Linked DNA regions of Homo sapiens. The protein of the gene in region 1 purifies or fractionates together with the protein of each later gene. This does not show direct contact. Each region holds a gene or a part of one and is shown on either strand. Other genes may lie near its edges. The genes, in order: DNASE2B, CERCAM, FAT1, PON2, PPP2R5D, AMD1 and PPP2R5E.

What was found.
Region 2: the proteins of DNASE2B (region 1) and CERCAM purify together in Homo sapiens (affinity purification with mass spectrometry; 2 studies listed by BioGRID and IntAct, with this or other methods). This does not show direct contact.
Region 3: the proteins of DNASE2B (region 1) and FAT1 purify together in Homo sapiens (affinity purification with mass spectrometry, with the first as the bait; one large-scale study listed by BioGRID). This does not show direct contact.
Region 4: the proteins of DNASE2B (region 1) and PON2 purify together in Homo sapiens (affinity purification with mass spectrometry; 2 studies listed by BioGRID and IntAct, with this or other methods). This does not show direct contact.
Region 5: the proteins of DNASE2B (region 1) and PPP2R5D purify together in Homo sapiens (affinity purification with mass spectrometry; 3 studies listed by BioGRID and IntAct, with this or other methods). This does not show direct contact.
Region 6: the proteins of DNASE2B (region 1) and AMD1 purify together in Homo sapiens (affinity purification with mass spectrometry; 2 studies listed by BioGRID and IntAct, with this or other methods). This does not show direct contact.
Region 7: the proteins of DNASE2B (region 1) and PPP2R5E purify together in Homo sapiens (affinity purification with mass spectrometry; 3 studies listed by BioGRID and IntAct, with this or other methods). This does not show direct contact.

What each region holds. Positions count from the first base shown.
Region 1 is NC_000001.11:84,404,984-84,408,483, forward strand, and holds part of DNASE2B (deoxyribonuclease-2-beta isoform 1 precursor), read left to right. Parts: intron 1-3,286; exon of another isoform or gene 3,287-3,453; coding exon 3,454-3,500. UniProt on the Homo sapiens protein: Hydrolyzes DNA under acidic conditions. Does not require divalent cations for activity. Participates in the degradation of nuclear DNA during lens cell differentiation.
Region 2 is NC_000009.12:128,427,357-128,430,856, forward strand, and holds part of CERCAM (inactive glycosyltransferase 25 family member 3 isoform a precursor), read left to right. Parts: intron 1-945; coding exon 946-1,065; intron 1,066-1,400; coding exon 1,401-1,477; intron 1,478-1,573; coding exon 1,574-1,680; intron 1,681-3,500. UniProt on the Homo sapiens protein: Probable cell adhesion protein involved in leukocyte transmigration across the blood-brain barrier. Does not express any beta-galactosyltransferase activity in vitro.
Region 3 is NC_000004.12:186,615,857-186,619,356, reverse strand, and holds part of FAT1 (protocadherin Fat 1 isoform 1 precursor), read left to right. Parts: coding exon 1-1,649; intron 1,650-2,155; coding exon 2,156-2,352; intron 2,353-3,500.
Region 4 is NC_000007.14:95,418,029-95,421,528, reverse strand, and holds part of PON2 (serum paraoxonase/arylesterase 2), read left to right. Parts: exon of another isoform or gene 1-3,213; intron 3,214-3,500. UniProt on the Homo sapiens protein: Capable of hydrolyzing lactones and a number of aromatic carboxylic acid esters. Has antioxidant activity. Is not associated with high density lipoprotein.
Region 5 is NC_000006.12:43,001,570-43,005,069, forward strand, and holds part of PPP2R5D (serine/threonine-protein phosphatase 2A 56 kDa regulatory subunit delta isoform), read left to right. Parts: intron 1-3,500. UniProt on the Homo sapiens protein: The B regulatory subunit might modulate substrate selectivity and catalytic activity, and might also direct the localization of the catalytic enzyme to a particular subcellular compartment.
Region 6 is NC_000006.12:110,893,999-110,896,213, forward strand, and holds the end of AMD1 (S-adenosylmethionine decarboxylase proenzyme), read left to right. Parts: 3' UTR 1-1,715; downstream 1,716-2,215.
Region 7 is NC_000014.9:63,393,378-63,396,877, forward strand, and holds part of PPP2R5E (serine/threonine-protein phosphatase 2A 56 kDa regulatory subunit epsilon isoform), read right to left. Parts: intron 3,340-3,500; coding exon 3,209-3,339; intron 1,909-3,208; coding exon 1,849-1,908; intron 552-1,848; coding exon 443-551; intron 1-442. UniProt on the Homo sapiens protein: The B regulatory subunit might modulate substrate selectivity and catalytic activity, and might also direct the localization of the catalytic enzyme to a particular subcellular compartment.

The DNA.
Region 1 (3,500 bases):
ATAAGGAATTTTCATCTGCATTAAAAACCTGCTCAGGAAGAAATTATTTCCCCTCAATGATTTTCTTGATGGCATCTGGGAATTCATCTGCTGCCTCTTGGTCAGCAAAAGCTGCTTCTCCTGTTATCTTAATTTTTTTTTTTTTAGGCCAAACCTCTTTCTAAAATTGTCAAACCATCCTTTGCTGGTATTAAATTCTCCAGCTTTAGATGATCTACCTTCCTTCTGCTTTGTCATATAGTGACTTCACTTTTTCTCCAATCATATTAGAGTCTATAGTATTCCTTTCTTATAGCAATCTTGCACCCATATAAAAGCTGCATTTTAATTTTAAGTATGAGCTATAAAAGTATTTTGTAAAAAGTGCAAGGTTTTCATGCCTACTGGCATAGCTGCAGTGAGGGCTTCACAAATTTCCTTTTCTTTTTTCACAATGGCTCTTATGCTGGATTCACTTAACTTGAAATGGCAGGCAACTGAAGCTGCAGACCTCAATCCGCAGTACATATCAAGCAATTCAACATCTTCTTATAATGTCATGACTTGTCTTTGCTTGTTAGAAGCATTTCCAGCATCAGCAGTGGCACTCAGTATAGGTCCTACGGTTTTATTCAAGGTTTCTGATATTGCCCCAAACATGATGAAAAATATGCAAGAGCTGTGAGAGATCACTTTTGACTACAGTATGCAATTTACTGGAGAGAACTGCTCACGTGGAGGTTGTTAGTGTCATGTGGCATTTTCAGCAGATATTCACAAGACTTGAGCTCACCTCAATGGTGACAAAAGGTGGCTATAAAATTATTACAGTAGTACAGTATTACTACAGTTAATTTAATGCAGTTATGACTTAGTACTGCATATTTATGTTTGTTTATATTTCTTGACTGTGAATGGCACCATGTTTGGTCTATGTTTGTATATGTAAATTTTGATGAATTTTAACTTTTTATAATAGATTTGTGCATAGTTTAGGGCAGCAAATGAAAAAATAGACTAGTATCTACATATATTGTATGCATTCATAATGTATCTAACTTTTTCTTAATTTTTAAAAATATTTCTAGGCTATGTGGTTCATCTGTGAGTTTTTTTTTTCAAATTGTCAAAAATCTCCCCCTAAATTTTCCAACATATGTTTTTAAAGGCCTGCATACATATAGACCCATGCAGTTCAAACCCAAGGGCCAACCGTATTATATAAAATGAAAACGCCTGCAGCTGCTTCTGCTTTCCAGGTTGGGGATGGGGACCAGAAGCATATCTATTAGTGGGAAAATAATGCCTACATTGTTCCTTTCCACATCAACGAGACTGCTAGGGGAGGAAGAAGGAAAGAGCAACATTGTAAAGCCTCTATCATTTGCCTTAGTTGGAGTAGATAGGCCTTCACTTGCCGGAATACAATAATGATCTTTGAAGGTGCAAAGGTAGCCCCACACCCTAGCAGGGAGACACAGTTAAACTGCTCTGCTAAACAAAAAAGGGACAGAAAGAAGCCAGGGATTAAAAAGCATAAGAAACATGGAGAAAGACTGGGGTAAGGCCTTATGGTGATGTAAAACCATTCAATATTTCTTACCTTTAGTAAAACCTGCCACATGCAATGTCTTGAGTGATTGGTTCTGGGGGGAAAATGACAGGAAAGGGACTGATTTCCATGCCTGATTGGCATAGAGCCAAAAGAAGAGAGCAACAGCAGTTGGTGATATCCAGGTATGACTCAGTGTTCTTTGGAAGCTGGAATTATGTGCCAGAAGTGACTGTGAGAATATTACTCCTCCACCCCCTGACCTGGAATTGAACCTCTGACAGAGAGTGAAATGCAAGATTAGACCAACTGGTTTAAATCTCAAATGTGAAGGTGACCAAGGCCAATAGCTGGGTTACATTTGGAATTGTTTCCCTTCTCTTGCCTTTACAAATAAGAATCTTCCGTGTACCTTCATAAACATTTATCAAACTATATTGCCTGCACTTGTGTGACTATATTTTCTGCTAGACAGGGGGCAGAGACTGTACCCCTCTTGTTCAACACTCAATAGTCAAAACAATACTGAACATATGTGTTAAAGGAATAAAGCTATTCAAAGGCACATGCCTACATCTACCTACTCTTAAGTCCATGATCTTTTCCCTTTATCAATAGCCTCTCTTCCAACTAAGGCTACAATCCACTTAACCTCAGCTGGCAGTTACACTCAGTTAGAACAATAAACTTCATTTATCATAAAAAATAAATTCCTCACTGGATCATCCCAGAATTCCTCCATGTTGTACCCCAAAGGCACACAAATGGCCTCCTTACCACATTCAATGCAGGTTCACAGAGTAACTAACTCTTCAGAGTTCTCCAAATGATGATATGAATGCCATTCAGTAGCTATGATCAATTATGGAAAATGAAGGTAAGAAAACAGCTTACTTTTCGGGGCATTCCTAAGCACAGTAGACAAGAATGCTCCAACAGACTATGTTGTGCATTGAAAAAAAAATTTTATCACATCATATAATTAAGCAACTGTGAGAGGCTTCTTCATTGAATTTGTTTTCTAAGAAAAAAGCAAGGGCCTTTTTTAAGGACATAGGTTATCCTTTCCTGCTTTTAATTATGTCACTCAGATTTTTTTAATATTGACATTATTGGCTTCAATTAAAGTTGTATCATCACACAAATTAAATGGAACCACCTAGAACAAATATTAGCAAGTTTCTAAAACATGAAAAATAGATACTATCGAAATAATAGCTTTATTTTGGCTCTAAGATTTGGCTGTTTGAAAATTGACTCATATTTGGCCTTACCAGAGGAAATCCAATATCACACAGTAAATTTCACCACTTTTTTTAAGCAGGAAAATATCAAGTTGGAAAGGTGAAGTGACACTGAAAAATGGATTGCAGAAAAATCCTCTCATAATGGGAGGAAGGGAGAGCAGATAATGAGGGATCCTGATTAAACACAACGCTACTACCCAGCAGTGAAGTGAAGCACAAAGTGTGCAGAGAAAATCAGATCCTGACAGCCAGTTCTGCACTGTGCCTATAATATCAATGGAAAAAACCTCAGATGTAATCCTTGGTTGGTTGTTCCTACTTCATTTCCTGAACAAATAATTCAGTACTCCTTTATTATACACTGGTTGCTTAATCAGAAACTTGGTTCCAAAACAACCAAGAGAAATAGGAACATTGCCCTCACACACAGATCACAATGCACAGGGCTCCTGTCACATGAGTAAAAATCATGCACAGTTAAAAATGGACTTTCTTTCCCCTGTCTTTCATGTCACAGGCTTCATATTGATGGGGAAGCTGCCTATTAGGGGAATAGATGACTTCTCATGTGTATTAATGAAAGCAATGTATTGCAGGCTGGGTAGCTGGTAGAAATGTTGTGGGCGTTTGTAAGTGGAAGATTTACGCCATTATAACCCTAATATATTCCTGCAGAGTAACAACACAGCCTATCTAATATACAATGATGGAGTCCCTAAACC
Region 2 (3,500 bases), on another chromosome or scaffold:
CCTGCCTGGGCTTCCCAAAGTGCTGGGATTACAGGCGTGAGCTACTGTGCCCCGCCTAGGTTAGCTTTTTAATTGGCACTGTGTGCCTGCCCCTGAGGATAATTATAATAAAGGTAACAAATATTGGCCGGGTGCAGTGGCTCACGCCTGTAATCCCAGCACTTTGGATGGCCTAGGGTGGGTGGATCACTTCAGGCCAGGAGTTCGAGACCATCCTGGCCAACATGGCGAAACTCCGTCTCTACTAAAAATACAAAAATTAGCTGGATGTGGTGGTGCACACCTGTATTCCCAGCTACTCAGGAGGCTGAGGCAGGAGAATTGCTCAAACCTGGGAGACAGAGGTTGTAATGAGCCAAGATCGCACCATTGCACTCCAGCCTCGGTGACAGAGCAGGACTCCATCTCAAAAAAAAAAAAAAGGTAACAAATATTGAAGCCGGGGGAAGGCCACTCTGGCTGCCAGGTGAAAGACATCGTGGAGAGGAGCCCCAGAGGGTGTGAGGTGAAGTGGAGGGGTGTGGGGAAAAGGCGATGGCCCTTGGATCCAGGTGGGGTGGTGGGGATCAGGAGAGGTGGGGGGATTTAGGAGACAGAGCAGTGGGGCTCACTGGCACCCTGTGGCTGTGATGGGTAGGAGTTTGTCTGCTCCTGCCTCACCTTGATGCCCTGAGGGCAGGGACTCAGTCTTGCTCACTGCCGTAACCCTGGCTCCCAGCGGGTGCCCTGGACAGGTATATTGAATGAATGAACCATTTCAGTAGAAAGACCCCTTAGATATTGTGTGAGCCAAGCCCTTTCTCCCTCTGGTCCCACAGGTGGGGAAACTGAGTCCCAGAGAAGACTGACATGTTGGGTCACTGGCAGTGCTGGGCCTAGGACCTTTCAGCTGGGTTCTGAGAGCCCCACCCTCCACTGCAGCTCTCACTCAGCCTGTCTCTGCAGGGGTCTCCGTCCACGTGTGCAATGAGCACCGTTATGGGTACATGAATGTGCCGGTGAAATCCCACCAGGGGCTGGAAGACGAGAGGGTCAACTTCATCCACCTGATCTTAGAAGCACTAGGTGAGGGCTGGGGAACTGTTCCACCCACCTGCTGCCGGGGCTCCCTGCCTCCCCACGGTGCCCCTTTCCCTAGGCCCTGGACGGAGCGGGCATTGGCCTTGGGGTTCCAGCTTTGTCCCTAACTCGTTCCATGACTCTGAGAAAGTCCCTTTCCCTGTTGGGCCTTAGTCTAGCATCCCTACAATGGGGGCAGGTGGATCCTGTGATCTCTGAGGTCCCGTCCTGTGGGGTGTTCTGCCAAAGGGGGCAGGAATGAGGCTGGGGGCTAGGACTTCAGGGTGACTGCTAACAGGAGTCAGTAGGGACTCGTGCTTGGGGTGTGCTTCCCTTTGCAGTGGACGGCCCCCGCATGCAGGCCTCAGCTCATGTGACTCGGCCCTCTAAGAGGCCCAGCAAGATAGGGTTTGACGAGGTAAGTCCCCCAGCCTGTGGGCTCGCTGTTAGGAGGTGGATGGGCCCTCCTCTTCCGCTCCCTTGCACTTACCGCCCACCCCCCTGCCTCCTCCAGGTCTTTGTCATCAGCCTGGCTCGCAGGCCTGACCGTCGGGAACGCATGCTCGCCTCGCTCTGGGAGATGGAGATCTCTGGGAGGGTGGTGGACGCTGTGGATGGCTGGTGAGCCTGCCTGGTGGGGGGGGCCCTGTGCGCTTGGGGAAGCAGTGTGGTCCATCTCCTAGCCCGCTAGGACTGGGAAAAGCAGACAGGTTGAATGAGTTTCCTGTCCCATGTAGTATCCAAATAGGGTCTGAGTAATATCCTCTCAGGGAGTTCCGGAGCAGACACACGTGGGAGAAGATGCCCTCCTGCTGCTCACCAGAGGAGGAGAGCACAGTGGCTGAGGCTCCAGGGCCTGGGTTCCAGCTCTACCAGTTACTGAATGTGTGACCTCCAGCCAGCTACCCCCATCTCTCAGCCCGTTTGTATAAACAGCAGATAACTGTGCCCTTCTCTTAGGGTTTTGTGAGTTTAGTGAAGTTAGCCAGGGCCGGGCACATAGTTTCCAAAGGCTTAGGTGTCTCCCTTATTATTACTCTCCATCCTGGACTTGAGCTACTGATGCGTGGGGATTAGGAAAGGCCAGCCATGTTCCCCCGAGGAACCCAGAGGCTAGGCTTCTCCAGCCACCAGGGGTCCTATGGCCCCATATGTCGGCTGCCATTTGCTTCAAGTACTCAGCTCTTTTTATTTTTTTTTTAGAGACAGCGTCTCCGTCTGTTGCCCTCCGTCTGTTGCCCAGGCTGGAGTGCGGTGCCACAAACATGGCTCACTGCTGCCTTAAACTCCTGGGCTCAAGTAATCCTCCCACCTCAGCCTTCTGAGTAACTGGGACTATAGGTGTGCACTATCACATCCAGCTAATTAAAAAGAATTTTTTTTTTTTTTTGAGGCAGAGTCTCGCTCTGTCGCCCAGGCCTGGAGTGCAGTGGCGCAATCTTGGCTCACTGCAACATCCGCCTCCCAGGTTTTAAGTGATTCTCCTCCCTCACCTCCCAAGTAGCTGTGATTACAGGCTTGCATCACCACACCCGGATTAAAAAAAATGTTTTGTTTTGTTTTTTTTTCATAGAGATAGGGTCTCACTCTGTTGCCTAGGCTGGTCTTGAACTCCTGGCCTCAAGTGACCGTCCTGCCTCAGCCTCCTGAATAACGGACTACAGGCATGCACCACCATGTCCACCTAATGAAAAAAAATTTTTGACTGGGCACGGTGGCTCATGCCTGTAATCCCAGCACTCTGGGAGGTTATGGATGGATCACCTGAGGTCAGGAGTTCGAGACCAGCCTGGCCAACCAACATGGTGAAACCCCCTCTCTACTAAAAGTACAAAAATTAGCCAGGTGTGGTAGTGGGTGCCTGTAATCTCAGCTACTTGGGAGGCTGAGTCAGGAGAACTGCTGGAACCCAGGAGGCAGAGGTTGCAGTGAGCCGAGATTGTGCCATTGCACTCCAGCCTGGGCCGACAACAGTGAGACTCTGTCTCAAAAAAAATTTTTTTTTTGAGAGATGGGGTTTTTCTCTGTTGCCAAGGCTGGTCTTGAACTCCTGGCCTCAAGCAATCCTCCCACCTTGGCCTCCCAAAGCACTGGGATTACAGGTGTGAGACACCACATCCCCCGAGGTCTCTTGACCATAGGCTATCCATCCTTTGCTTGGGCCTCTGCCCAAGAAGTATCTATCATGTTCCCACATTCTTCCTAGAGTGCCTCCCCCTCAGGCAGCCCCCTACCATCCCACCCTTTCCTCAAGGGTCACCCCTGTCTTATCATATTAGGACATGTCCTAATAGTTATCCTCTCAGAACTCCCGAGGTGGCTGGGCGTGGTGGCTCATGCCTGTAATCCCAGCACTTTGGGAGGCTGAGGTGGGTGGATCACCTGAGGTCAGGAGTTCGAGACCAGCCTGGCCAACATGGTGAAACCCCATCTCTACTAAA
Region 3 (3,500 bases), on another chromosome or scaffold:
CTGTGTAAAAGCCTATGATGCAGACAGTTCAGACATAGACAAGTTGCAGTATTCCATTCTGTCTGGCAATGATCATAAACATTTTGTCATTGACAGTGCAACAGGGATTATCACCCTCTCAAACCTGCACCGGCACGCCCTGAAGCCATTTTACAGTCTTAACCTGTCAGTGTCTGATGGAGTTTTTAGAAGTTCCACCCAGGTTCATGTAACTGTAATTGGAGGCAATTTGCACAGTCCTGCTTTCCTTCAGAACGAATATGAAGTGGAACTAGCTGAAAACGCTCCCCTACATACCCTGGTGATGGAGGTGAAAACTACGGATGGGGATTCTGGTATTTATGGTCACGTTACTTACCATATTGTAAATGACTTTGCCAAAGACAGATTTTACATAAATGAGAGAGGACAGATATTTACTTTGGAAAAACTTGATCGAGAAACCCCGGCGGAGAAAGTGATCTCAGTCCGTTTAATGGCTAAGGATGCTGGAGGAAAAGTTGCTTTCTGCACCGTGAATGTCATCCTTACAGATGACAATGACAATGCACCACAATTTCGAGCAACCAAATACGAAGTGAATATCGGGTCCAGTGCTGCTAAAGGGACTTCAGTCGTTAAAGTTCTTGCAAGTGATGCCGATGAGGGCTCCAATGCCGACATCACCTATGCCATTGAAGCAGACTCTGAAAGTGTAAAAGAGAATTTGGAAATTAACAAACTGTCCGGCGTAATCACTACAAAGGAGAGCCTCATTGGCTTGGAAAATGAATTCTTCACTTTCTTTGTTAGAGCTGTGGATAATGGGTCTCCATCAAAAGAATCTGTTGTTCTTGTCTATGTTAAAATCCTTCCACCGGAAATGCAGCTTCCAAAATTTTCAGAACCTTTCTATACCTTTACAGTGTCAGAGGACGTGCCTATTGGAACAGAGATAGATCTCATCCGAGCAGAACATAGTGGGACTGTTCTTTACAGCCTGGTCAAAGGGAATACTCCAGAAAGCAATAGGGATGAGTCCTTTGTGATTGACAGACAGAGCGGGAGACTGAAGTTGGAGAAGAGTCTTGATCATGAGACAACTAAGTGGTATCAGTTTTCCATACTGGCCAGGTGCACTCAAGATGACCATGAGATGGTGGCTTCTGTAGATGTTAGTATCCAAGTGAAAGATGCAAATGACAACAGCCCGGTCTTTGAATCTAGTCCATATGAGGCATTCATTGTTGAAAACCTGCCAGGGGGAAGTAGAGTAATTCAGATCAGGGCATCTGATGCTGACTCAGGAACCAACGGCCAAGTTATGTATAGCCTGGATCAGTCACAAAGTGTGGAAGTCATTGAATCCTTTGCCATTAACATGGAAACAGGCTGGATTACAACTTTAAAGGAACTTGACCATGAAAAGAGAGACAATTACCAGATTAAAGTGGTTGCATCAGATCATGGTGAAAAGATCCAGCTATCCTCCACAGCCATTGTGGATGTTACCGTCACCGATGTCAACGATAGTCCACCACGATTCACGGCCGAGATCTATAAAGGGACTGTGAGTGAGGATGACCCCCAAGGTGGGGTGATTGCCATCTTAAGTACCACGGATGCTGATTCTGAAGAGATCAACAGACAAGTTACATATTTCATAACAGGTAAAAAAAATTCATACCAAACGGTTTAATTAATTTAAAATGATTTTTAGAAGCATAAAGTATAAGATCTGTATTGTATGGAAATTGGGGATTTAAGGGATGATTTTAGTTAAAAATATCTAAAATAATACGTAGAAATAACATCTGTTGAGCCTCATTTCAAGCTTGTTACCTGAGCAAAGCTACCAGTTGTTTCATTAGACTGTTTTTGATTTTTGTGACTCATTCTTTTGAACCTTATACTTAGTGTATAATAAATATAATTAAAAACATCTATAGTTTTAATGCAGGCTAAATGATTAGTAGTCTTAATGCTATGTTTATGCATTTTAATGCTGCCCTTGTTTTTGTAAATTGGAAGGCTAATATATGCCAAATTAATTCTTTTAATACTCAATTCTTTTAAACTATAACATTATACATCTTTTGTACAGTTTATTTTTTCTGTTACTTATTTTTATCCTTTCAACAAATTTGATTATTATCTTCCTCCATTGATTTAATAGGAGGGGATCCTTTAGGACAGTTTGCCGTTGAAACTATACAGAATGAATGGAAGGTATATGTGAAGAAACCTCTAGACAGGGAAAAAAGGGACAATTACCTTCTTACTATCACGGCAACTGATGGCACCTTCTCATCAAAAGCGATAGTTGAAGTGAAAGTTCTGGATGCAAATGACAACAGTCCAGTTTGTGAAAAGGTAAGCAGCTCTTCCCTTACATTTGTGTGTTATGAATTTCAATTTCTTAATTCTTTCAATGGGACCATCATTTGGCGCTGTGGTGTAATTCACATGTGTTTTATGATCACTTACTGATTAAGCAGAGGTGTTAAATGGGGTAAGACTTGGAAAAGCTTCAGAACTATTTGCGGGAATGCTCAATAAATCAAAAGCCTCATTCTAGAAAACTAAATTACGGACAGGACTCCAGTTGCATCCAACACTGAAAATGCTCTGTAACCTTTTCATGAGGGGATTCTCTTAATATGGGGATACAGCTGTTTTGGGGGAAGGATCTGACGGGAAACAAAGTGCCGACGTGCCGTGAGACACTGTTTTGGGGGCATCTGCTCTTCTGCACGCTGGAGAAGCTCAGAGGTGGACAGCGTGCTTCCTGCATCTGCGCGGCTCACCATTCAGTGGGAACTAAAAGTAGACGTAGGAAGGGCTGCTCCCTCCAAGGTTAGATGAGGGCATGTGGCTCGAGCAGGGGTGGTCCCTGGGGCCAGAGGGTGAGAAGGGCTGCCCAGAGAAAGGGCTGGCTCAGCTTCGGGGGGCAGTAAGTGGGTCGTCAGGAGTGGGTGGGGAGGGGCCATGGAGTGTGAGGAGGGATTGTGGGAGTAGCCACTGAGTTTGCCAGAAGTGGGGAGTCTGCACTGAGAGTCTTGGAAAAGGGTGAACTGGATTACAGTGGGCAGTGGCGGTCGTTCCAAGGGATTTGAACTCGATCCTAGAGAAAATAGGGACTTTGGAGCCTTTTATATCGGTAAGGTAGAGATGACATGAGACGAGTTCTTAAGCTTAGTTTGGAAGCATCGTGCCCATTATTTAGACAGGGAGGAGTGGATGCAAGGGGGCCCTGGAAAGGCAGAGGTGGGGAAGGAGTGAAAGGACCAAAGCCACCACCGAGGAAGACCATCTGGTGTGACAGCCAGCCAGCATGCCATCGAGCCCGACTTTCTACATGAGTAGGGGGAGCGACCAAGGCCGTGGCAAAGAGGAGTCTGAGCCGGGGGCTGGTTTTAGAGGAGTTCCGTGTTGAGTTCCAATTCCAGTTTGCTAAAGTAATGAGACATACAGTTGACCATGTTTTTTAGACATTGAGAGATGGCGAGATGTTGGATGGG
Region 4 (3,500 bases), on another chromosome or scaffold:
TCCAGCTGCAATCAAGAAGAGCCCTCTCAGAACTGGTCACTCAGCAAAAGCCAGATGGCATTAGTAAAAGATGTTGGGCAAGGGTGGGAGTTTGGGCCAGTGATCTCTTAGGTTACTTTTGCTGCTGAGTTAATAATTGTCACATTATTAAACAGCCCTTGGCCCTGGGAAGCCCACCTTCTGTGAATACAAGTCTCAGAGTAGACAATAGGGCACAACCAGCCATGTTACATGACAGACTGCCAAGTGCATTCCTCTTACAACTCACTGGGATGGAGCGCTCCTCAGAGAAAAACAAGCCCAGCAACATTTGTATTCTGAACAGGCATCTGTCTATGTTTGTGACCTTTATGTTGTGATGTGTGTGAGCTGCTGTCTGGAATTGGAAAGAATGAGGAAATATGTCACCTATGGCCCCTCTTGTGAAGTGTTAAATGCCTCTGAGGCACTTCAAAAGGCAACAGAGCGGAGAGGATGAGTGATTAGAAGCACATTTGGGATACATTTTTAGATCTAATTAGAATTGTCCTTTTTTTTTTCTTTTTTGCTTTTGCCCTGTGGTTAGCACACACCATATGAACGTTTGTCGAATGCTATGTTAGTGATGCATAATGGTTAATAATAACTTTTGGTTATATATCTTTAACAACAGTTGCTTATTCACAGGTCTTTGATAAGAAGAAATAACAATGTGCTGGACACACATTTCTATACAGGCAAAAGTGACTTTTTATGATAGAGAGGGCTGTTTCTTATTTTCTGTTTTGAAAACAGTAGTAGCTATGCACTTGAGGCCAACTAATCCCTCTAAGAGGTGAACCTTCCTTCCCCCTTGCCCTTGATTCCCATCAACACACACATACATATGCACACACTACCGTGCTTCAGTCACCATCACTGGAAGTGAACTATGTGCAACTTTTGGGTGCTTTATATATATCATATCATATTGTGTCTGCTTTAATAAATCATAGTTATTGACTACATATCATACAGGATGTGTGCCTTCTGTGGGTCAGAAAATAAGTTCACTATTTAGTCCTTTTCAAAAATTCCTTCCCGATCTATCTTATAGACAGAAACTAAGCTTTTATACACCCAAGATTTGGCAGATTAACATCTGCATATTAAAATGTCAAGAGCTAGTTAACTTTATTTGAGGCTTAAAAGTTAAAAAATCTGATTTTCTAAATGTCTGGCCTTCAAAATTTGAGTGGACTGTCTTTCTCAAGATAACTAACAATTTTATGCACTTGGCAGTCAAGACCTTTACAATAACTGCTGCTTGGGAGATTGAGGGGAAAAAAGCATTAAAGTTTGTGGCCCTTATAATCAAGTACTTTACAGTCTACTGATGGGAGAAAAGGAAAACAAAACAAAACAAAAAACCACTGTGAGATATAGATATGTCTTTTCTTTCTCTAGCAGATAAGTACCTGAGGCTCAAGGAGGTTAAGCAACTTTTGCAAATTCACTTTCCAATATAGTGTCTTTTCCCAGGGTGACTAATGTATATACTTGATGAGTGAACCAGAAAAGTAGGAAATAATATGTTACATATGGGATGCTCTATTGGGTATAGTAAAGGATGCGTTGCTGTTATAAAATTATAGTCACTTAGAAAAGAGATGTTTATTTTTATTTTTCTCTCATCAGTCTTAAGGTAAGTGAATGGCCTAGGGTAGTTAGGTGACTGTGTTCCATATGGTCATTCAGGGGCAAATGCTGATGAAGCAACACAGCTGTCTTCATCTAAGACTAGAACTCTGCTTGTTGCCATTTCCCAGCAGGAAGGGGTTGAAAGAAAATTTATGTAGATTTTTTTTTCTACCCAGTAGTTGCATATATATTGTATTCTCACATCCTATTGACCCAAACTTAGACATATGGCCACATCTGTCAGCCAGAAAGGGTGGGCAATGTTATCTATAGCTGTGTTGCTACGTGCCTATTGCTAAAAAGGCTAAAAAGGAAGAAGGGGAACATGGATGCTGGTGAACACTTGGCCACCTCTGACACAGATAATTGCTAAAGTAATAAGAAGAGATGGAAATTAAATGTGCTAAGCTAGGAGACTTTCTAAAGAAAGGGTTTGTCATGCTACGCTGTGCCATTCATGTGTTTTTTTGCTCATGCTGTTCCTTGTGCCTGGAAATTCTCCCCCTAATTCCCCTGAGCAGTGGATGCAGTGGATACCCTCCCCAGATCCCCCCCAACTTCCCTGAGTGTTGGCTACCAAAAGCTCTGAGTGCACCCAGGGAGCTAAGTCCTCCTGCCCACAGGCAATAATGGACTGACACGGGGTAGACTTAAAGAAATAAGAGGCACATCAATCAATTGAAATGTGTGGGACCTTACCTGGACTCTGAATTAAACAAACTGTAATTTTTTAAAGCTACACCTTTTAAACATGATTGGCTATTTGAACACTAACTAGATATTTGATGATATTGAGGAATTATTGTGAATTTTTAGTGTAGTAATGATATTGTGGTTTGTATAAATATATTTAGGGATAATATGATGCCTCAGATTTGCTTTAAAATAACACAGGATGAGGATAAGTGGTAGGACTGCAAGGGAAACAAGACTGGCCATGAGCTGATAACTGTTGAAGGTGGGTACTGGGTATATAAGGGCTCACCACACCATTCTCTTGATTTGTGTCTATTTCCCATAATAAAAAGTTTAAAGAGAGAGAACCGATGAAGGGGAGGGAGAGAGTCAAGCACACAATAAGAGTGACAAACAGTGCCAAATCAGCCCACAGTATTAAGTTTTCACATATTTACATAAATATCACCTGGAATGCAATATTGAAATTAATGTATATCACTAGAATAAAAAAAGTAAAGATTTAATAAATTTGTTTTGAAATAAAATAAGTTGAAATACGAAAAAGACAGAAAAGGTTTTGAAAGAGGTTTTAAAGAAAAGTGCAGGATATTCATTGGTAAAGATGTTGGTGAGAGGCTTGGAAGCAAAACTTCAGGGGAAAAAGACAACATATGGAATTGACCACAATTGAATTTACAAGTGAAGTGGCTTTACAGAGGAATCAGGGGATGTTTCTGAGAGAGGAAATTCATTAAATTCTAACTTGAATATTTTCTGTTTGCCTTTAAGTCAGAGCAAAGGCTTTGAGTCCCAGCTTCCCAGTTTGTGACCTTGAGCAATTGCTTAACTTTTCCAAAGCCTCCAATAGTCTTCACTCTAAAATAAAAGATAATCATATGAGATATTGTATGCAGGGTATTTACAAGGAGCCTGGTACTTGGTGTACCTAATGTATGTTAGTTATTATTATTAAATTAGAGGAGCAAAAATTTCTCTAGCATTGACTGCTCCTGACATAATCACACCGAAGAGGGGATACACGATGATAAAACCTTCCTGCAGTAGTGGCTATAGAAATGATGACGGGGAGAAGATCTGGAAAATATTCCAAAGAAGGCTACAGATAGATACATTTTTTCCATTGGAATTAGGCAATGGAGTTA
Region 5 (3,500 bases), on another chromosome or scaffold:
GTAGAAGGTACCTCTTATAAAATGCTTCTTTAGGGCTGGGCACGGTGGCTCACACCTGTAATCCCAGCACTTTGGGAGGCTGAGGCGGGCGGATCATGAGGTCAGGAGATCGAGATCAGCCTGGCTAACATGGTGAAATTCCGTCTCTACTAAAAATACGACAAAAAATTAGCCGGGCGTGGTGGCACGCACCTGTAATCTCAGCTACTCCGGAGGCTGAGGCAGGAGAATTGCTTGAACCCGGGAGGCAGAGGTTGCAGTGAGCTGAGATTGCGCCACTGCACTCCAGCCGGGTGACAGAGCCAGACTCTGTCTCAAAAAAAAAAAAATGCTTCTTTAGTGCGTGACAGAGCCAGACTCTGTCTCAAAAAAAAAAAAAATGCTTCTTTAGTGCGAGGAACTGTTCATCTCTATCCTTACGATAGTGCTATAAGGTAGGTATGGTTGTCATCCCATTTTGTAGATGAGAAAACTGAGGTGCAGACTTTCTGGATATTACTCAGCTAATAAGTGGCGAGCCAGGATTGAACCCAGGCAGGCAGTCTGGCCCAAGGTGTTATTGAGCACCAAGCTCCACAGATAAGGGTTTGGTTGTTCTTTTTTTTTTTTTTTGATTCGGAGTCTCGCCCTATCACCCAGGCTGGGGTGCAATGGCATGATCTCAGCTCACTGCAACCTCTGCCTCCCGAGTTCAAGAGATTCTCCTGCCCCAGCCTCCCGAGTAGCTGAGATTACAGGCACGTGCCACCACGCCCAGCTAATTTTTTGTATCTTTAGTAGAGGCAGGGTTTCACCATGTTGGCCAGGCTGCTCTCAAACTCCTGACCTCGTGATCCGCCCGCCTCTGCCTCTCAAAGAGTTGGGATTACAGGTGTGAGCCACCGTGCCTGGCCTAGTTGTTCTTAAGGCAGGGAAATGGAGGCCTGAGGCAGAGGAGTGTCTGGATACACACCAAGTGCTGGCCCCCAACCTGCTTTTCTCTTACTACCACTTCCCCCACCCCAAGGTGCAACTCATCTGCCATATGTAGAAAGGGAGACCTCAGACCTCCAGATGCCTTGCCATGTCTAATACACGGGACCCACAGGCTGGACCCGGTGCTCCTCTCCTGTTCTCTCATCCCTAGATAGGTGACAAGTCCACATCATTGTTTTTATAAAAAATTCAGAGGATGCAATTAATAACATTTCTGTCTTCCTTCCCTCCCCCACCCCAGAGGATTTCAAGTTCTTCTATTATTATGGTAAGGAGTAAGAGTTTGGGATGGGAGCTGGAGAGGAGCGGGAGATGGCAGGTATGAGGCCAAGAGGTCACCTTTCCCTTTCCCTGTGGTGAGGGTACCCAGCTGGACATGGCCTCTGCCTAGTCCTATTCTAGACTCTGTTTGGGGGCAAGGGCTGTCCTGTGGTTTAGCTTCTTTCCTCTCCCAACAGGGGGCTGCCTGGACAGTCCAGGAGTACCTGTGGGCAGACAGCCCTGCAAATACCTGTATTTAGACTTCTGAAAATGGACTTCATGGGGCTGTAACACCTGTGTCTGGGAGCTATGCCTTTAAAAAGGGATAGCTTTTAGGCTGGGCACGGTGGCTCACACCTGTAATCCCAACACTTTGGGAGGCCGAGGCAGGTGGATTAATTTAGGTCAGGAGTTCAAGACCAGCCTGGCCAACGTGGAGAAACCCCATCTCTACAAAAAATACAAAAAGTAGCTGGCATGGTGGCGGGTGCCTGTAATCCCAGCTACTCGGGAGGCTGAGGCAGGAGAATCACTTGAACCTGGGAGGTGCAGGTTGCAGTGAGCCAACATTCTGCCACTGCACTCCAGCCTGGATGACAGAGCGAGACTCCATCTCAAAAATAAATAAATAAAATAAAAATAAAAAGAGATAATTTTAAAAATTAGCTGCATTTCTCCCATTATAAAAGCAGTATCATACTACACAATGGAAGTAAGGCAGAAAAAAAGCAGTGTCAGCTTGTAGAAAATTTAGAAATGCAGAAGTAATCTAATTCTACTACAGGAGATAGTCATTAACACAGTGGTGGACTTGGGCTTGTTCTTACCTTTTCTGAACCTCGTTTTTGGTTCTGTGCATGTGTTTTAATGTGAGCGAGCTCATTTTGTGTATCTAGTTTTGTACTGTATTTTTTTTTTATGTATGTATGTATGTATTTATTTATTTTTTGAGACGGCGTCTCGCTGTCTCCCAGGCTGGAGTGCAGTGGCGTGATCTCGGCTCACTGCAAGCTCCGCCTCCCGGGTTCACGCCATTCTCCTGCCTCAGCCTCCCGAGTAGCTGGGACTACAGGCACCCACCACCACGCCCGACTAATTTTTTGTATTTTTAGTAGAGACGGGGTGGATGGTCTCGATCTCCTGACCTCGTGATCTGCCCGCCTCGGCCTCCCAAAGTGTTGGGATTACAGGCGTGAGCCACCGCGCCCGGCCTGTGTATTTACTTTTTGAAGATGGAGTCTCGCTCTGTCGCCCAGGCTGGAGCTGGAGTGCAGTGGCATGAGCTCAGCTCACTGCAACGTCCGCCTCCTGGGTTTGAGCAATTCTCTTGCCTCAGCCTCCCAAGTAGCTGGGACTACAGGCACCCACCACCAGGCCTGGCTAATTTTTTGTATTTTAGTAGAGACAGGGTTTCACTGTGTTGTCCAGGCTGGTCTCAAACTCCTGAGGTCAGGCAATCCACCTGCCTTGGCCTCCCAAAGTGCTGGGATTACAGGCGTGAGCCACCGCACTTGGCCTTGTACTATCATTATTTAACTTAGCATAGGAAGCAATTTTCTGTCATTATGTAGTTTTAGGCCTTTTGTTTTATTTCAAAATTTTATCAGTATGATAACACATACATTGTTCAGATATTACTACTATTGGGGTTGGAATGCAACTCTTAGCTCTTTCCTCATTAGATTCCTTTAGATTTTCACATTAGATTCTTTTCCTACTTTAGATTAGATTCCTTTAGATTTTCACATTGGATTCTTTTCCTACTTTTTTTTTTTTTTTTTTGAGATTTAGATATTATCAATTGACTTTCTACCATGGAAAATAAGTCCTCATCATTCTTATGCCTTTCTGCAGACATTTCCCTTCCTCCAAAAATACCACCATTTTGGGCAAATTACTATGAACGTGAAAATATTTTTTACAACTAAACTATGTATTACATAGTTTTCTTTTCTTTTTTTTTTTTTTGAGGCAGAGTCTCACTCTGTCATCCAGGCTGGAGTGCAATGGCGCAATCTTGGCTCACTGCAACCTCCTGGGTTCAAGTGATTCTCCTGCCTCAGCCTCCCGAGTAGCTGGGATTACAGGCACCCGCCACCACACCCGGCTAATTTTGTATTTTTAGTAAGAGATGGGGTTTCACCTTGCTGGCCAGCTGGTCTGGAACTCCTGACCTCAAGTGATACACCCACCTTGGCCAAAGTGCTGGGATTACAGGCATGAGCCACTCACTGCACCTGGCCCATAGTTTTTATAAACATAAT
Region 6 (2,215 bases), on another chromosome or scaffold:
AGGTGTTGGCCTCAGCCTAACCCTCTAGGACTGTTCTATTAAATTGCTGCCAGAATTTTACATCCAGTTACCTCCACTTTCTAGAACATATTCTTTACTAATGTTATTGAAACCAATTTCTACTTCATACTGATGTTTTTGGAAACAGCAATTAAAGTTTTTCTTCCATGAGTTGAGTCCTTAAGAAAATGATTCCAGTTACTCATTTTGCATATTTGCTATTTTAACATTATTGGACCCTGCATTTATAGTCCTTTGATTTCTTCCCTCTCCCTGGTGTCTCCCCCAAGACCCCAAATAAAGCAATACACTGTTAACACTGTGGGTTTATATACTAATTCTATACCCCAGATGGGGAATGGGGGAGATGGTCCCTGGGCTTAATATTCTTTAAAGGGCATGGGAATTTAGCCTCTCTTTTATTGTAATGTGCTCTTTTGGAAAATAGTTGGTTAGCAGGGAAGACCCAGAGTTGTAGATTGAGATTAGGGTGTACTGGCTGAACTGTGGAAAACATACAATTCTGTGTTCCTCAGTAAATGAGATTAGCGTCTAATGAGTAGCACCCCTTTACTAACTTAGTAGTAGTATAAAATCATTTTTATTTAGTTAATTACCAGAGAGATTTAGCATAATTTTGTTCTGGATTCAGTAAATCAAGTCAGCTTGGATCATTCACCTTAACTTTTCCTTTAGCAGCCATTTCCACTAGTTTCCATTAAGTAGTGTTCTATAAACTTTGATCCAAAGCAGAATCAATGTCTTTTCCATCTCGTGACTTAAAGTTCTGTGACTGTGATGCATGTGAGTGTTCCGACTTCATCTGTTCCTCTTAACTACGGTGTTTCCCTTACCATGGCATTCATAGGATGAAATGAATGACTGCCCAGAATGAGAATTTGTCCAGATTATTCAGATAAACATCATAAAGCAGAATACATTATAAATAAGTAGAATATGAATAAATAGAATAATAAAATTCCAAAATACTCAATGGGAAATGACTAGTAATATAGGCTTTCAAGAGTTGGTACCTTTTAGCTATATTTGCAGATTCTCTGGGATTTTAAGGAACTGAGAAAACAGCAAAGTTGACTAAATTTTATATTTCTTGTCCTCTAAATATTTTGATAATTTCTGGATTGATGCAGTGATGTTTTTGTTCCTTCCGTATTTATAAATGAAACACCTTTTTTTAGTGTTTCTAAACCTAAAATCTACTTGGTTTGAAATCAAGTGGTTGGAACACTGTTTGACTTTTATTTGAAGCATGTTGTTGATTGAAAATTTCATTGAGGAAGTTTTCAATCAGTGTGATCAGTTTGATTCTGTAATGAGCACAGCACCTAATATTTTGAGGAGCTCTGTTTTGAGGACCAATGCTTAAGGTGGACTTTGTTCGTAAACAATATCCCAATAGATTTGTTGACTTGAGGTCTGGTTTGGTTTTGTTTTTGTTTTGTTTTGTTTTGTTTTGTTTCCAATAGAATTAAGAATTCTAATGTTGAAAAACTGCACAAATTTTTATGGGACAAAGCCTAGAAAAGAGAAATGTAGTTTGAATCATAATCTAAATCATCGTATGATAGAAGAGGGAAAGTTTTGGTGCCATAATTTCTCCTTTCACTGGTGTTGGACTTAAATCAGTTGAAATGTATTTCTGTACCACAATTTACGCTTCAATAAAAGTTTAATTGTCTAGTGACATTCAGAAACTTTTCTGTTGCCCTGTTTTTTAAGTAGCCTACTTGACCAAATACTACATGTCTGAAGTTTAAAATCAATACAACAATGTGTATTTATGAGTTTGGAGTTAGACAGAAGTTTAAAAGTGTTAGGTCCCAACCTTTATTATAGACTAGACTCTTAAAACATTGGTTGAGGATGATCAAACTCAAATAAGTTTCCTTATTTCATTCATGGTTATTTCTATTAAGTAGAAAAAAATTTATAACCTTGATCATTTTCTTTATTTTTTTTAATTTAGGATCTTGTTCTGTTGTCTAGGCTGGAGTGCCGTGGCTGTTAACAGGTGCGATCATAGCATACTGCTTCCTTGAACTCCTAGGCTCAAGCAGTCTTGCTGCAGCTTCCCAAGTAGCTGGGAATGCAGGGTTCTGCCATCACACTTGGCTTTGTCATTTTCTTTATTTGGCAACATTTTAGTTCCACAGTCAAATATGTAATAAGCTGAAAAATCTTATGAAAATGTATA
Region 7 (3,500 bases), on another chromosome or scaffold:
GGGAGTATTTTAAACTTAAGTAAGTCTCTTTCCTTTGGGAATGAAGGCGATAGGCCCGGCGCCGTGGCTCACACCTCTGTAATCCCAGCACTTTGGGAGGCCAAGGTGGGCGGATCATGAGGTCAGAAGACCCAGACCATCTTGGCCAACATGGTAAAACCCCGTCTCTACTAAAAATACAAAAATTAGCTGGGCATGGTGGCGTGCGCTTGTAGTCACAGCTACTCGGGAGGCTGAGGCAGAAGAATTGCTTGAACCCGGGAGGTGGAGGCTGCAGTGAGCCAAGACTGTCCCACTGCACTCCAGCCTGGGCGGCAGAGCAAGACTCCGTCTCAAAAAACAAAAACCAAAAAAACAAAATGAAGGTTATATCAATATCAAAAAAACGAGTTTGCAAACTTTTTATTTTGCTTCTAAAAGTAGTTGTACAAAATCCTCCTACCTGTGCATGGAAGAGTGATAAGCTCCTGACAGTGTGTAAAGGGATCAATACTTTCACCAGAAACTGTTTGTGTTCTGCCTTAAGAGGTAAAGCAAAGCCATTGATAATACTAGGGAGAAAAAAGAGACACAAATTAGCAATGTTACCACAAGTTGAACTGAGACAAACTGTTCTTGTGATATTAATTAAACTTAATCAGTTTGTTTGTACAAAACAACATAATACCCACCCCAGTGGCATTCAGAATTTCCTTTTTTTTTTTTTTTTTTTTTTTTTTGAGACAGAGTCATCTTGCTCTATTGCCCAGGCTGGAGTGCAGTGGCCCAATCTCAGCTCACTGCAACCTTCGCCTCCGGGATTCAAGCTATTCCTATGCCTCAGGCCTCCCAAGTAGCTGGGATTACAGGCACCCACCACCATGCCTGGCTAATTTTTTTGTATTTTTAGTAGAGAAGGAGTTTCACCATATTGTCCAGACTGGTCTAGAACTCTTAACTGCAAATGATCTGCCCACCTTGGCCTCCCAAAGTGCTGGGATAATAGGCGTGAGCCACCACACCCAGCCAGGATTTCTTAATGACTTCAAGGAATACAAAAAGTTGGAAGGAAATTTAAGAGAAGAAAATTTGCTTCTGGTCACCCAACAAAGGCTCCTGTGCTCCTAAAATTAGTCAGATGGTTTCCAAAAGCTCTTTATCAAAACCCTTTATTTTCCCTCCCTTTTCCTTCTCCAAATAATGGCCCGCCTTGCTTGCTTCCGCCTTAAATATGACCTTTTCCATTTCCAGACATCATTCCTTCTCATTCCTGAAACCTCTGCCCAGCCTAGGGAAATCACTGAGAGAAAGCCATGTGACTCCACCTTCTTTTTCTCTTCATATTAGGAGAAAAGATTAAGTAATCATATTGTCCAGCTACATTATCCTCCCTTGTGTGTAGAAACTTACACCACAGCTCTTTCCAATTCATTCCACTACTCCAGGCTGCAGCTGTTCAAGGACTATACCTGGATACACAACTCCTTTGAAAATGGCAATCTTTCCAATTTATTATAAACTTGCTTTCAACAGATAAGGCAAAGGACCAGATAGCCTAAAAACTAATGAGAATAAGATGTTTTGGAGTAACTAGCCTGACCACAATTAGATGTACCATCTTTCTAGTAATGAATGAACTGTCAGCTCTTTCAGTCATTCCAGTGGAAATGGCAATGCATACTTGTGGAACAAGGGGAACAGGAAATTGTGTCTTGTAGAGTCAGCTGGAAAATATGCTAATAGGCACAAATGAGAGAGACCCAATGTACATACAGCAAGAGAACTAGGTGAGCATCTCTTGGTGCCACCTGAACCTAATTTTTAAAATAATATTCATCTGAGATTAGCAATTAGAAAAACCGTGCTCACCTTCCTAATATTTCCAGCAGTTCAGCTACACCATTGAAGTGTTCTGTTTCATAAACAAACCTGAGAGAAGAGGAGAAAAGGGAGGAGAAAGGAGGAGAGGAGGAGGAGAAGGAAGGGATAAAAAGAGGAGGAGGAGGAGGAGAAGGGGGAGGAGGAGGAGAAGAGGAGGAGGAGGAGGAGAGCGGGGAAGAGAGGAGGAGAGGGAGGACAAGGGGGAAGAGAGAAGGAGGAGGAGGAGGGGGGAAGAGAGGAGGAGGAGAGGAGGGGGGAAGAGAGGAGGAGGAGAGGAGGGAAGAGAGGAGGAGGAGAGGAGGGAAGAGAGGAGGAGAGGAGGGAAGAGAGGAGGAGAGGAGGGAAGAGAGGAGGAGAGAGGGGAAGAGAGGAGATGGGGGAGAGATGGGGGAAGAGAGGAGAGGGAGGAGAAGATGGGGAGAGAGGGGGAGGAGAGGAGGGAAGAGCGGAGGAGAGAGGGGAGAAGAGGGGGGAGGAGAGGGTGGAAGGGAGGAGGAGCAGAGGGAAAAGGGAGGAGGAGGGGGGAAGAGAGGAGGAGACGGGGGAGAGATGGGGGGAAGAGAGGAGGAGAGGGAGGAGGAGAGGAGGAGGAGGGGGAGGGGGAGAAAAGGAGGGAAGAGAGGAGTCGGGGAGGAGAGGAGAAGGGGGGAAGAGAGGAGGGGAGCGGGAAGATGGGGGAGGGAGAGGTGGGGGAAGAGAGGAGGACAGGGAGGAGAAGAGGAGGAGAAGGGGGAGGGGGAGAAAAGGAGGGAAGAGACGGGGGAGGAGAGGAGAAGGGGGGAAGAGAGGGGAGGGGGAAGATGGGGGAGGGAGAGGTGGGGGAAGAGAGGAGGAGAGGGAGGAAAAGAGGAGAAGGGGGAGGGGGCAGGAGAGGAGGAGAGCGGGGAGGAGAGGAGGAGAGGGAGGGAGAAAGGAGGAGGACAGGGGATAGAGGAGGAGGAGGAGAGAGGAGAGGAAAAGAGGAGAGGAGGAGGAGATGGGGGAGGAGGAGAAGGGGGAGGAGAAAAGCAGGGGAGAGGGAAGAGGAGGGGGAAAGTAGGGGGAGAGGAGGGATAGAGAAGAAGCAGTGGGGGGAGGAGGGAGAGGAAGAGGAAAAGAGGAGGAAGAGGAGGGTGGGAGGAGAAGATGGGGGAGGAGAGGAGAAGATGGGGGAGGAGAGGAGAAGATGGGGGAGGAGAGGAGGGGGAGGGGGTAGAGGAAGAGGCAGGAGAGTCAGTAGAATGAAGGAAGGCAGGCAGAAAGGGAGAAAGAGAAGTCAGTACACCGTTTTCAGATATTTGAGATTTACTTAATACTCATAAAAACACCAACTTTGCTTCTCCTTCTTCCCCCATCACACTCCACTTACCTTAGAAAAATATTGTTAATCTGTTTTCGGATAAATGCTCTAAGACCAAGAAACTTGCCATAAATTCTGTGTAAGACTGTTTTTAAGTAGTCCCGTTCCCGAGGGTCTTCGCTGTCAAATAGCTCCAGAAGCTGTTGTAAATGAAAGACATTATAGCTGTCAAAGGCGGTTTCAGAAAAGGATTTAGGAATTCTATTATTTAAAATCCCCTTCTTCCTTCCTCAAAAAATGTGTTGAATATCTATTATGTGCCAAGCACAGTGCTAGTCTTTGGGCATATCATGATAAACAA